2 linked regions of the Homo sapiens genome follow. The protein of the gene in region 2 purifies or fractionates together with the protein of the main gene of each other region. This does not show direct contact. Each region holds a gene or a part of one and is shown on either strand. Other genes may lie near its edges.

Region 1 (4,428 bases), on a different chromosome or scaffold from region 2:
AGACTGAGCATTGGCCACTGGATTTAGGAAGATGGAGGTCATTGATGACCTTCCCAAGCAGTTTTGGTGGAAGTGGGATGAAAACATGATTGGAGTGGGTTTAAGAAAGAACGAGTGGAAATGAAGAGGTAACTCTTTGCAGATTTCCTGTAAGATTTTACTAATATTTTTAACTGGCAAAGCTCTTACGACTTAGCATCTCTTTCTATATTTTCATGAGGATGCCAGTGGTAGAGAGAAAATTAGGCACCATGGAACGGCCAATTCTACTGTAGGAAAATGCTGGGTTTGGAGTCACAAGACCAGGGTCTGAATCACAACCAGGACCTACTAGCTATGTGACACCTCTACTCTCTAAGCTCCATGTCCCTCATCTGCAAAATGAAGATAATAATCACTTCTCTACAGAACACATATGAACTAAATGGAGAAGGTACATGGACATGCTGGGCTCAGTGCCTGGCACATAGTAGGTACTCAGGACAAGTTGTTTAGTGTTCAGTGTCATGCATGTAGGATTTGATTGCATTCAGAAGAGGCATGTTCATGTTTGCGTGCTTAGTTATTTTTAAGTGTGCTAATTGCCTCTTTAAGTGAATTGTCATAATTGTGTGATTCCAATATTTTGATACAGCATATGCTTATTTTTTCAAAAGGCTTCTGGTCAATTGGGCCGGTTCCAGTGGATTGAAGTTTTGTTTTTTGACTGAAAGGAATGGACTTGAGCAGTCAGTTAGCATTCACTGGGCACCTTCTCTGTGCCAGCACCTGCTCTGTGCCAGCACCTATTTTAACAGTGCTGAGGGACAGGGAGGGAGGTGTCGGTCAAAACACATGAACAGCAGGTGGCTGAGGGGCGTGTAGTATGCTGGGAAGGAGAGCTGTGGTTTGAAACTAGAGCCTGGGACATTCCCCCATTTCCCGTGCCCATTTATTGTGTTGTAATGAGTCATTACTGTGCACTGTGCTAGGCACTGAGGACAAGAGAGTTAAAGGACTTCCCCAAAGACACAGAATAAGTAAACAGCAGCTCACTGGCTCAGGATCCTCATTTATGAGTGTTCCTAACTCACACAGCACAGGTCTGAGCACCACAGGGTGATGTGTGTCTTCAGCCTGACCACCAAGATGGGCTGGGGGCCGATTGCCTTTAGGTGGCAATAAGCCACAGATATCATATCACCCCAGAAAGTAGAGTCCCACTGCCAGCTTTCCAGTTCAGAGTCGCCACCTCCAGGAAGCCTTCCCAACCCCTCTGCCCATTCTAAGGCAAGACTCTACTCCTTTGATGCTCCCTATACAATTCCTTGTGTGTGTCCCCCATAGTATCATAATATTCATGACCACCTGCAACCATTTTGACTCTACTTACCTTTTGCTTGTGTCCCTGTCCCCCATATCCCAGTGTGCTACTGTTTGCTTATTCTGTGTCCTTGGGGAAGTCCCCACCATCTCTGAAACTCCAGATGAGGGCAGCAAGGATAGCAATAACTAACGCTGACATCACTCACTGTGTGCTCAACATTGCCCTGAGAAACTTACATGTTATTGATTCATTTATTCTTTATAGCAGCCCTGTAGATACATACTGTCATTACCTGCTTTCTCACACATGAGGAAACTGAGGCACAGAGAGGGTGTTTTAGTCTGTTTTGCATTGCTATAAAGGAATACTTGAGACTAGATCTTTTACAAAGAAAAGAGGTTTAATTGGCTCATGGTTCTGCAGGCTGTATCAGCATGGCACCCACATCTGCTCAGCTTTTGATGAGGCCTCAGGAAGCTTTTACTCCTGGGAGAAGGTGAAGGGGGGAGCAGGCATGTCACACGGCAGGAGAATGAGAGAGAGAGAGGGGAAGAGGTGCCAGTCTCTTTAAACAACCAGCTCTTGCATGAATGAATAGAGCAAAAACTCACTCATTACCACAGGGAGGGTCCCAAGCCACTACTGAAAGATCTGCCCCATGACCCAAACACTTTTGGCTCAGCCCCACCTCCAACAGTGGGTCACTTTTCAACATGAGATTTGGAGGGGACAAATATCCAAACTGTATCAGAGGGTAAGTAATGCACCCAGAGTCACACACAGGCAGTAAGTGGCAGAGCCAGGATGCAAACCCAAGCTGCCTGGCTCCTAACCACTGCACTGCACTGCCTCCTGCGTGATAGGGACAGTAGTTCCCAGCTCCAGGGCAATCATGAAGGTTGAGTGAGATGCATGTTTATGGTGTCCACCCCAGGACCTGGCTGTACATTCAACTTTTTTTTTTTTTTTTTTTTTAAGATGAGGTCTCCCTCTGTCACCCAGGCTGGAGTGCAGTGGCACAATCACAGCTCACTTCAGCCTTGACATCCTGGGCTCAAATGATCCTCCACCTCAGCCCCCGAAGTAGCTGGGACTACAGGTGCATGGCCACACACCCAGTGAATTTTTGTATTTTTTTTTGTAGAGATGGGGTTTCACCATGTTGCCCAGAGTGGTCTCAAACTCCTGGGCTCAAGCGATCCTCCCGTCTTGGCCTCCCAAAGTGCTGGGATTATAGGCCAACTCATTGTTTCTGAGCTCTTACTTTGTGTTCCAACTCTGTGCCAGGTCCTGACTGAGGCATTGGGGATATAGGGAGCAAAACTCATGTTAAATATCAGACAAATAATCACACAAGAAGTCAGTTAACTACTTATAACGATGAGTGCTTCCAAGGAAAAATTCTGGGCAATCTTGGGGTGTGAAATGGGGTTTGATCTACCCTGGAGTATCAGGGAAGACATTTAAACAAAACCTATTGTGGAGAGATGAGTAGGAACTAACCACGGGAGGGACAGTGTGTGGCAGGCGGAGTGCAGCAGAGGGAACTGTGTAGGGGAGAGCCCAGAGGCAGGAGAGGTCACTGTGGTTAGAGGGGTGGTGGGGCCAGGCCATACAAGGACTTCCAGGGCTGGATCTGGGACTGTGGACTTCATCCTGAAGGCAGTGGGGAGCTCATCATTTGATGTGGGATTGACATCGTGTGATGATCATCTTGACAGAGACCAGTCTGGCTACAGAAAGAGAATAGAGCAGCCCGAGTGGCCAATGAAAACGGCTGGTAAGAGGTGGTGGTGGCCTGGACTAGGATAGTGGCAGTGGGAAAGAAACAGATTTTAAAGATATTTTGGAGACATTTCATTGGATTTGAGAGATGTCAGGGGGTGAGTCCCAGGTTCGTGGTTCTATGAACGGGATGGAAGGTAGTGTCACTTGCTGAGATGTAGAGGACACAGGGACACGGCAGGGGAAGGGGTATTATGATCAACAAACGAGAACATTGACTGGGCATCGAGAGGCTCCGCCCTGGAGCTCAGATGAGTGACCAAGGCTGGAGGGGTAAATGTGGCACTTAGATGAGAATCGAAACCCAGACTGGTTGAGGTCCACCTGGGGAGGCAATGTAGGGCAGGAAGAGAGGGGAGTTCAGGACAGCCTGAGGAACCCTAGATGAGAACAGAGAAGGAGAAGGTGAAGCAGGAAGGTGGACATGGTCATGGCCTGTTCCCAGATGACTGTTTGCCCATCTATGAGATCATCCCACTGCAGCCCTGCAGAGGGAGGAAATGAGCAAGGGGCCATGTGGGCTCTGGGTCCCAGTGGTGGGTCCCAGGGTGGCAAGGCACTTACCCTCTCAGTCTGTTCTACGACTGTAAAGGGTAGTCTAGGGCTCTCCCCCATGGAATTTAGGTATCTTGTGCTTTCTGCTGTTGCCACAGGCTGTACACACACCCAGCTATCCCCGCTGCTCAGTAACTTCATCCAGCAGACACTCAGGGAATTGGCCACCACCAACCAGGTCCTGTGCCAGGCTCAGTGACCTTCACTATTTTAACACACGCACTTAAACAATACAATGATGCTAGAAGGTGTTATTTCTTACATGCTATTGTGGTTTAGGTTTCCCCCCACCTCTATGCATATTTCTTGATTGATTTAAGATTTAGCACTGTAGGTAACAATATATGTTACGTAGTTATATAGTCTGAAAGAGCTAGAAGGAAGATATTGAATGTTCCCAACACAAATGATAAATGTTCAAGATGCTGGATATGCCAATTACCCTGATCTGATCGTTATGCATTATTTGTATCAAAACATCACTGTGTACCCCATAAGTAAGTACCATTATTTTATGTCCATTTAAAAAATGAAAGAAAAAGTGTAGAAAACATTTACCTTTATATTTACCAATGCCTTTGATATGCTTCCTCTGTTCTGGAACATTCTCAACTATTATCTCCTCAGTTCTCCCCTGACCTATTATTCTCTCACTCTTCTCCTTCCAGAATGCTGATTGAACAGGCATCCATTAGACACTCTTACTCTGTCCGCTGTGCACATAAACTCTCTTTCATATTTCCTTTTTGACCGTCTATGCCAAACTCTGGATAATTTCTTCA
Region 2 (5,806 bases):
ACTCAAATGGCCAGGCTCACTGGCTCATTCCTGTAATCCCAGCACTTTTCAGAAGCTGAGACGGGTGGATTGTCTGAGCTCAGGAGTTCAAGACCAGCCTGGGTAACATGGTGAAACCCTGTCTCTACAAAAAACACAAAAATTAGCTAGCTGCGATGGCATGTGCCTGTAGTTCCAGCTACTCGGGAGGCTGAGGTAGGAGGACGGCATAAGCCCAGGAGGTGGAGGTTGCAGTGAGCTGAGATTGCACCACTGCACTCCAGGCCCTATCTCCAAAAAAACCAAAAGTTACTCAAAATAATTTCTCACTCTGTGGTTATACAACCAACTTGATATAAGCTTCAGTTACTTCATTTCTATGTTTAAAAAAATCTCTTGTAAAAATTTAACTTTTTTTTTTTTTTTTTTTTTTGGAGACGGAGTTGCATTATGTCACCCAGGCTGAAATGCAGTGGCGCGATTTTGGCTCACTGCAACCTCCGCCTCCAGGGTTCAAGCGATTCTCCTGCCTCAGCCTCCCAAGTAGCTGGGATTACAAGTGCCTGCCACCATGCCCAGCTCATTTTTGTATTTTTGGTAGAGACAGGATTTCGCCATGTTGGCCAGGCTGGTCTTGAACTCCTGACCTCAGGTGATCTGCCTGCCTCAGCCTCCCAAAGTGCTGGGATTACAGGTGTGAGCCACCATGCCCAGCCAAACTTTTTTTATAATTATGTAATACATTTATATGGTTACAAAGTCAAATCTATAAAGTCTCACCTCTCTCTGCATCCTGTTTCATCCCTTCCTACTGGAATTTTTAAAAAACTATGCTTTATCCTTCCATTTAAAAAAAATTGGTCAGGCGTAGTGGCTCATGCCTGTAATCCCAGCACTTTGGGAGGCCAAGGCAGGCAGATCACTTGAGGTCAGGAGTTTGAGACCAGCCTGCTCAACATGGCGAAACTCTGTCTCTACTAAAAATACAAAAATTAGCCGGGCATGGTGGGATACACCTGTAATCCCAGCTACTCACCCAGGAGGCTGAGGCAGGAGAATCGCTTGAACCCAGGAAGTGGAGGATGCAGTGAGCTGAGATCGGAGATTGCACAACTGTACTCCAGCCTGGATGACAGAGTGAGTGAGACTCTTGTCTCAAAAAATATAATAAAATATCTATTTTATATTTCCATCTTTTTAGATAAACCACAGCACAGCATGTACTTTCCTTTATACTGTGCTGTCTTCGCTTACCAGCATATCCTAGCGATCTCCCATTCCTGTCTCAGCTCCACGGTCCTTCATTATATGGATTAATTATATAAATATGGATTATTCCACAGGTCCTCTCCTGATGAACATGTAAGTTGTTCCCAGTCTTTGGATATTACAGTGTTGCATGAATAGCCCTGTGCTATTTCTTTTCATATTTTTGTCAGCGTATTGTTAAGATAAATTCCTAGAAGTGAGATTGCTGGATCAAAAGTAAACGCATATACTGGGACAACTGGATATCCACAGGCAAAACAATGAAGCTGGACCCTTACTTTACACAGTATACGAAAATTAACACAAAATGGACCAAAGACCTAAACTTAAGAGTTCAAACTATAAACCTCTTAAAAGAAAACACCAGGGAAATCTGCATGATTTGGACTTGGCAACGGTTTCTTAAATAGATACCAAAAGCACAGGCAATAGTAGAAAAAATAGATAAATTGGACTTCATTAAAATGAAAAACTTTTACCATTTAATACTCATTAGGATGACTATTTTATTTTATTTATTTATTTAGAAATGGAGTCTTGCTCTGTTATTTATTTATTTATTTAGAAACGGAGTCTTGCTCTGTCGCCCAGGCTGGAGTGCAGTGGTGCAATCTCGGCTCACTGCAACCTCTGCCTCTCGGGTTCAAGTGATTCTCCTGCCTCAGCCTCCTGAGTAGCTGGGATTACAGGTGCACAGCACCATGCCCGGCTAATTTTTGTATTTTTAGTAGAGATGGGGTTTCACCATCTTGGTCAGGCTAGTCTCGAACTCCTGACCTCATGATCTGCCCGCCTCGGCCTCCCAAAGTGCTGGGATTACAGGCGTGAGCTACCGCGCCTGGCCGACTATTATTTTTTTAAACAAGTGTTGGCAAGGATGTAGAGAAATTGGAACCTTTGGTGCATTGCTGGTGGGAATGTACAATGATGCGGTCAATGTGGAAAATAGTTTAGCTAGTTCTTAAAATGTTAAACAGACAATTATCATATGACCCATTAATTCTACTCCTGGGTATATATCCAAAACAACTAAAAATAGACTCAGATACGTGTATGCAAATATTCACAACAGTATTATTCAGAAAAGCCAAAATACAGAAACAATCTAAGTGTCCATCAGCAGATGAGCTAAAGGCACTATGTCCAAACAATGGAATATTATTCCACTATAAAACGGAATGAAGTTCTGATAGACACTATGGCAGGGACAAACCTCGAAAATATGCTAAGTGAAAGCAACAGACACAAAAGGGCAAATATTGTATGATTGTTATTTATATATGAAATATCTATAATAGGTAAATTCATAGACAGAAAACATATAAAGGTTACCAGGGACTGAGGAAAGAGAGGAATGGGGGAAAAGAAAACAAAGTAAATGCATAGGTAATTTTGCTAGACATTGCCAAATTCACCTCCATGAGGGTGGTACCACAAGCACCCCACCAGCAATGCAAGAGAAGGTCTGTTTCTGAAGTCCTCACCAATGCAGTATATTGTCAGACTTTTGGATTTCTGCCTGATTGTTGACATGTTATCTCAGTGCAGTTTTAATCTGTATATTTTCTTACAATAAAACCTTTAAAAGATCCTTTCTAATTATGTTTTAACATGCTGGTATTGGTTCTTAAGTAATTACCATGAGAATTCCTTAGATAAATATTCTAAAACATTTATAAATTAAAGAGAATCAGCAAGGGAGAACCACACACATACATGTCATGGCTATTACAAATTCTAATTCTGGAAACAAAATTTTAAAAATTTTGCATAGTGCCACAGGTGAGCAGGTACTTAACTACCAGTACCTGCCATAGGCATAGTACTCTGCTAAGCAAACACTTAACAACAGAAAAGCCCAATTAACACTTGATAATTCTAGAAATTAAACACACTGTCACCCAATCATAACCCTTTTGCTTTGATTAGAATTATTCTAGCTAACTTTGGCAGTAAAACTGCCAGTGTACATGTTACTTCTCTAGAATTTTACTATATAGCCTGAGATATAAGATCAAAAACAAAGGAAAATGATTAATTTGTCAAAAGAACTGAATGATACAACAACTTTACCTTTCCATTTAGCAACCAGTTTAGGATCTGAAATTGTGAAGCTTGGACGGCTTCTTGAAAGAATACCTTTTCCAAAATAACCCTTCCAGGAAGAGAGAAAATGAAGTTAGTTCATGCTTAGTTACCAGTTTTTTAGCTGAGGTAGAATATACAGTAATCCCTCAGTATCCACAGGGGGCTGGTTCCAGGACCTCTGGTGGATACCAAAATCGGCAGATGGTCGAGTCCCTGATATAAAATGGTGCAGTATTTATATATAGTCTACGTAGGCCCTCCCATATACTTTAAGTCATCTCTAGGCTACTTATAATACCTAATGCAATGCAAATGCTATGTAAATAGTTGTTATATTGTTTAATATAAGAAAATAAAGTCCCCGTTTGGTACACATGCAATTTTTCTCCCAAAATATCTTCAATCCAAGGTTGGGTGAATCCACGGAAGTGGAACCCATGATATGGAGGGCCGACTGTACCCATCTGAGTTAACAAGAGGTTCGCCCCACTTTTCATGTCTTTACATTTTCCCTCTGATTATCTAATGATGACTAAGGATGTTCTTAGCGTAACACCTTTCTAATCGCTTCAAGAGTACTAGTAAGTTTTTAGCACACCTCATTTATCCCATAACTAATGCTTTCAGTCTAGGTCTGATAAGCCGAGGGCAGGCAGAGGCAGAGTTTCTTCTCTACATATGGTTCGGGAACACAGTGTGCCTGAAGGCAGGAGCCATGCTGCCCACTAGGTCCAAAAAAACCTCTTGGATTCTTTTGTACTCCAGAATTGAAGTATTCCTCTCATTCCTGCTGATTCCAAAAACAACATGTATTTTTCCCCTTTTCATTACAAAATATTTAAACACACAGAAAATTGAAAGAATAAAACAAACACCCCTTTCTCCATTTAGATTAACAATCAGAATAAAGAGGCCAGGTATGGTGGCTCACACCTGTAATCCCGGCACTTTGGGAGGCCGAGGTGGGCAGATCACTTGAGGTCAGGGGTTCAAGACCAGCCTGGCCAACATGGTGAAACCCTGTCTCTACCAAAAAATACAAAAATTAGCCAGGCATGGTGGCATGCGCCTGTAGTCCCAACTACTCGGGAGGCTGAGGTGGTAGAATCACTTGAACCTGGGAGGTAGAGGTTGCAGTGAGCTGAGATCATGCCACTGCACCCTAGTCTGGGTGACAGGGTAAGACTCTGTCACAAAAAACAAACAAAAAAAACACCCAGCAACAACAAAAACCAAGAATAAATAATGCATACAGCACTTTATAAAGCCTCTTGCTTAATGTTATATACTGTAAATGAAGGCCTCCCTGGTGAGCTGCCCTTGGCCTACTGAGACTCCTGCCTCACCATGGCCAGTGCCACCCACTCTTCTATCAAGTGTCTAGAGAAGGCACATTTATGGAGACAAGACGCCATTCCGTGGCTGCCTTGGGCCGGGAGTGGGAGCAGGGATTAAGTGTGATGGGCACAAGGGAACTCTGTGGTGATGGGAATGTTCTAAAACTGGACTGTGGTGAGAGTTGTGCAACTCTATAAATTTATGACAATCACTGAATTGTATACTTACAATGGGAGGACTTTATAGTTGTAAATTATAACTCAATAAAGCTGTTTTTTAAAAATGCCCACAGCAATGAACAGATTATGGAAAATTTTTTTTAAAGAACTACCAGTCTTCATTCAACTTGATCAATGCTGGAAAACAGTAAAAACTAGAACTTGTCCTCATCTGAGAAGAGGTCCCCAACCAGGAGGCAGCAGATAAGGAGCTCCATGCCAAAGCCCCATCTGATCCGTGCCTGAGTAGGGACACTATGCCACGCTGTGGCTACCTCTGGGAACGGGATGGGAGTGAGTGGGGAATTTTCACTTTTTTACCCATTACATTTCTGTAAATTACTTTTTTTGTTCCTTTAACAAACATGCATTGCTTTTACAACTAAAGACAAAAAAAATAGTCAATCCATTGAACCTACTTCATCACTGAAATAAAGGTTTGTGGGCAGGGGTGCTCCATCTGTCATTCTATTACCCTAACATATGGCTTTTGGGCACTAATTCAAATTGTACTTTTCCTACAACTGGACCAAACCGCAAGGAAAGAATACACATTGTTCATGGTTGGTGTGGGGGTATGGCTGGGATGGGGAGAAGGAAAGGACTGCTTGCTCAGGGTTGTCTGAAAGTAATCTTACCAAGGCTGCCTGCACTTACTTTCCCATAGAGCTGCTCAATGTCCTCCGCATTCCTCACAATCACATTGTTGTTAATCATTTCAGCACGGAATATCTTGAATTCTTTCAGAGGACCATGGTCCTGACCAAAAGGGATTGGCAATGGAGACTCGTAAGTCTCATACACTCTTCTTTTCCTCTTTGGGGCATGGAAAACTGCTTCTGCCATTTTTCAGAGGAGGTATTCTTTAAAGAGTAGACAACAAACAGAAAGAAACAGACAATCAATAACTACCT

What was found.
Region 1: the proteins of TSEN2 (region 2) and TOX2 purify together in Homo sapiens (affinity purification with mass spectrometry; one large-scale study listed by BioGRID and IntAct). This does not show direct contact.

The regions. Positions count from the first base shown.
Region 1 is NC_000020.11:44,000,924-44,005,351, forward strand, and holds part of TOX2 (TOX high mobility group box family member 2), read left to right. Parts: intron 1-4,428. UniProt on the Homo sapiens protein: Putative transcriptional activator involved in the hypothalamo-pituitary-gonadal system.
Region 2 is NC_000003.12:12,489,733-12,495,538, reverse strand, and holds part of TSEN2 (tRNA-splicing endonuclease subunit Sen2), read right to left. Parts: intron 5,756-5,806; 5' UTR 5,739-5,755; coding exon 5,550-5,738; intron 3,404-5,549; coding exon 3,322-3,403; intron 3,311-3,321; exon of another isoform or gene 1,234-3,310; intron 1-1,233.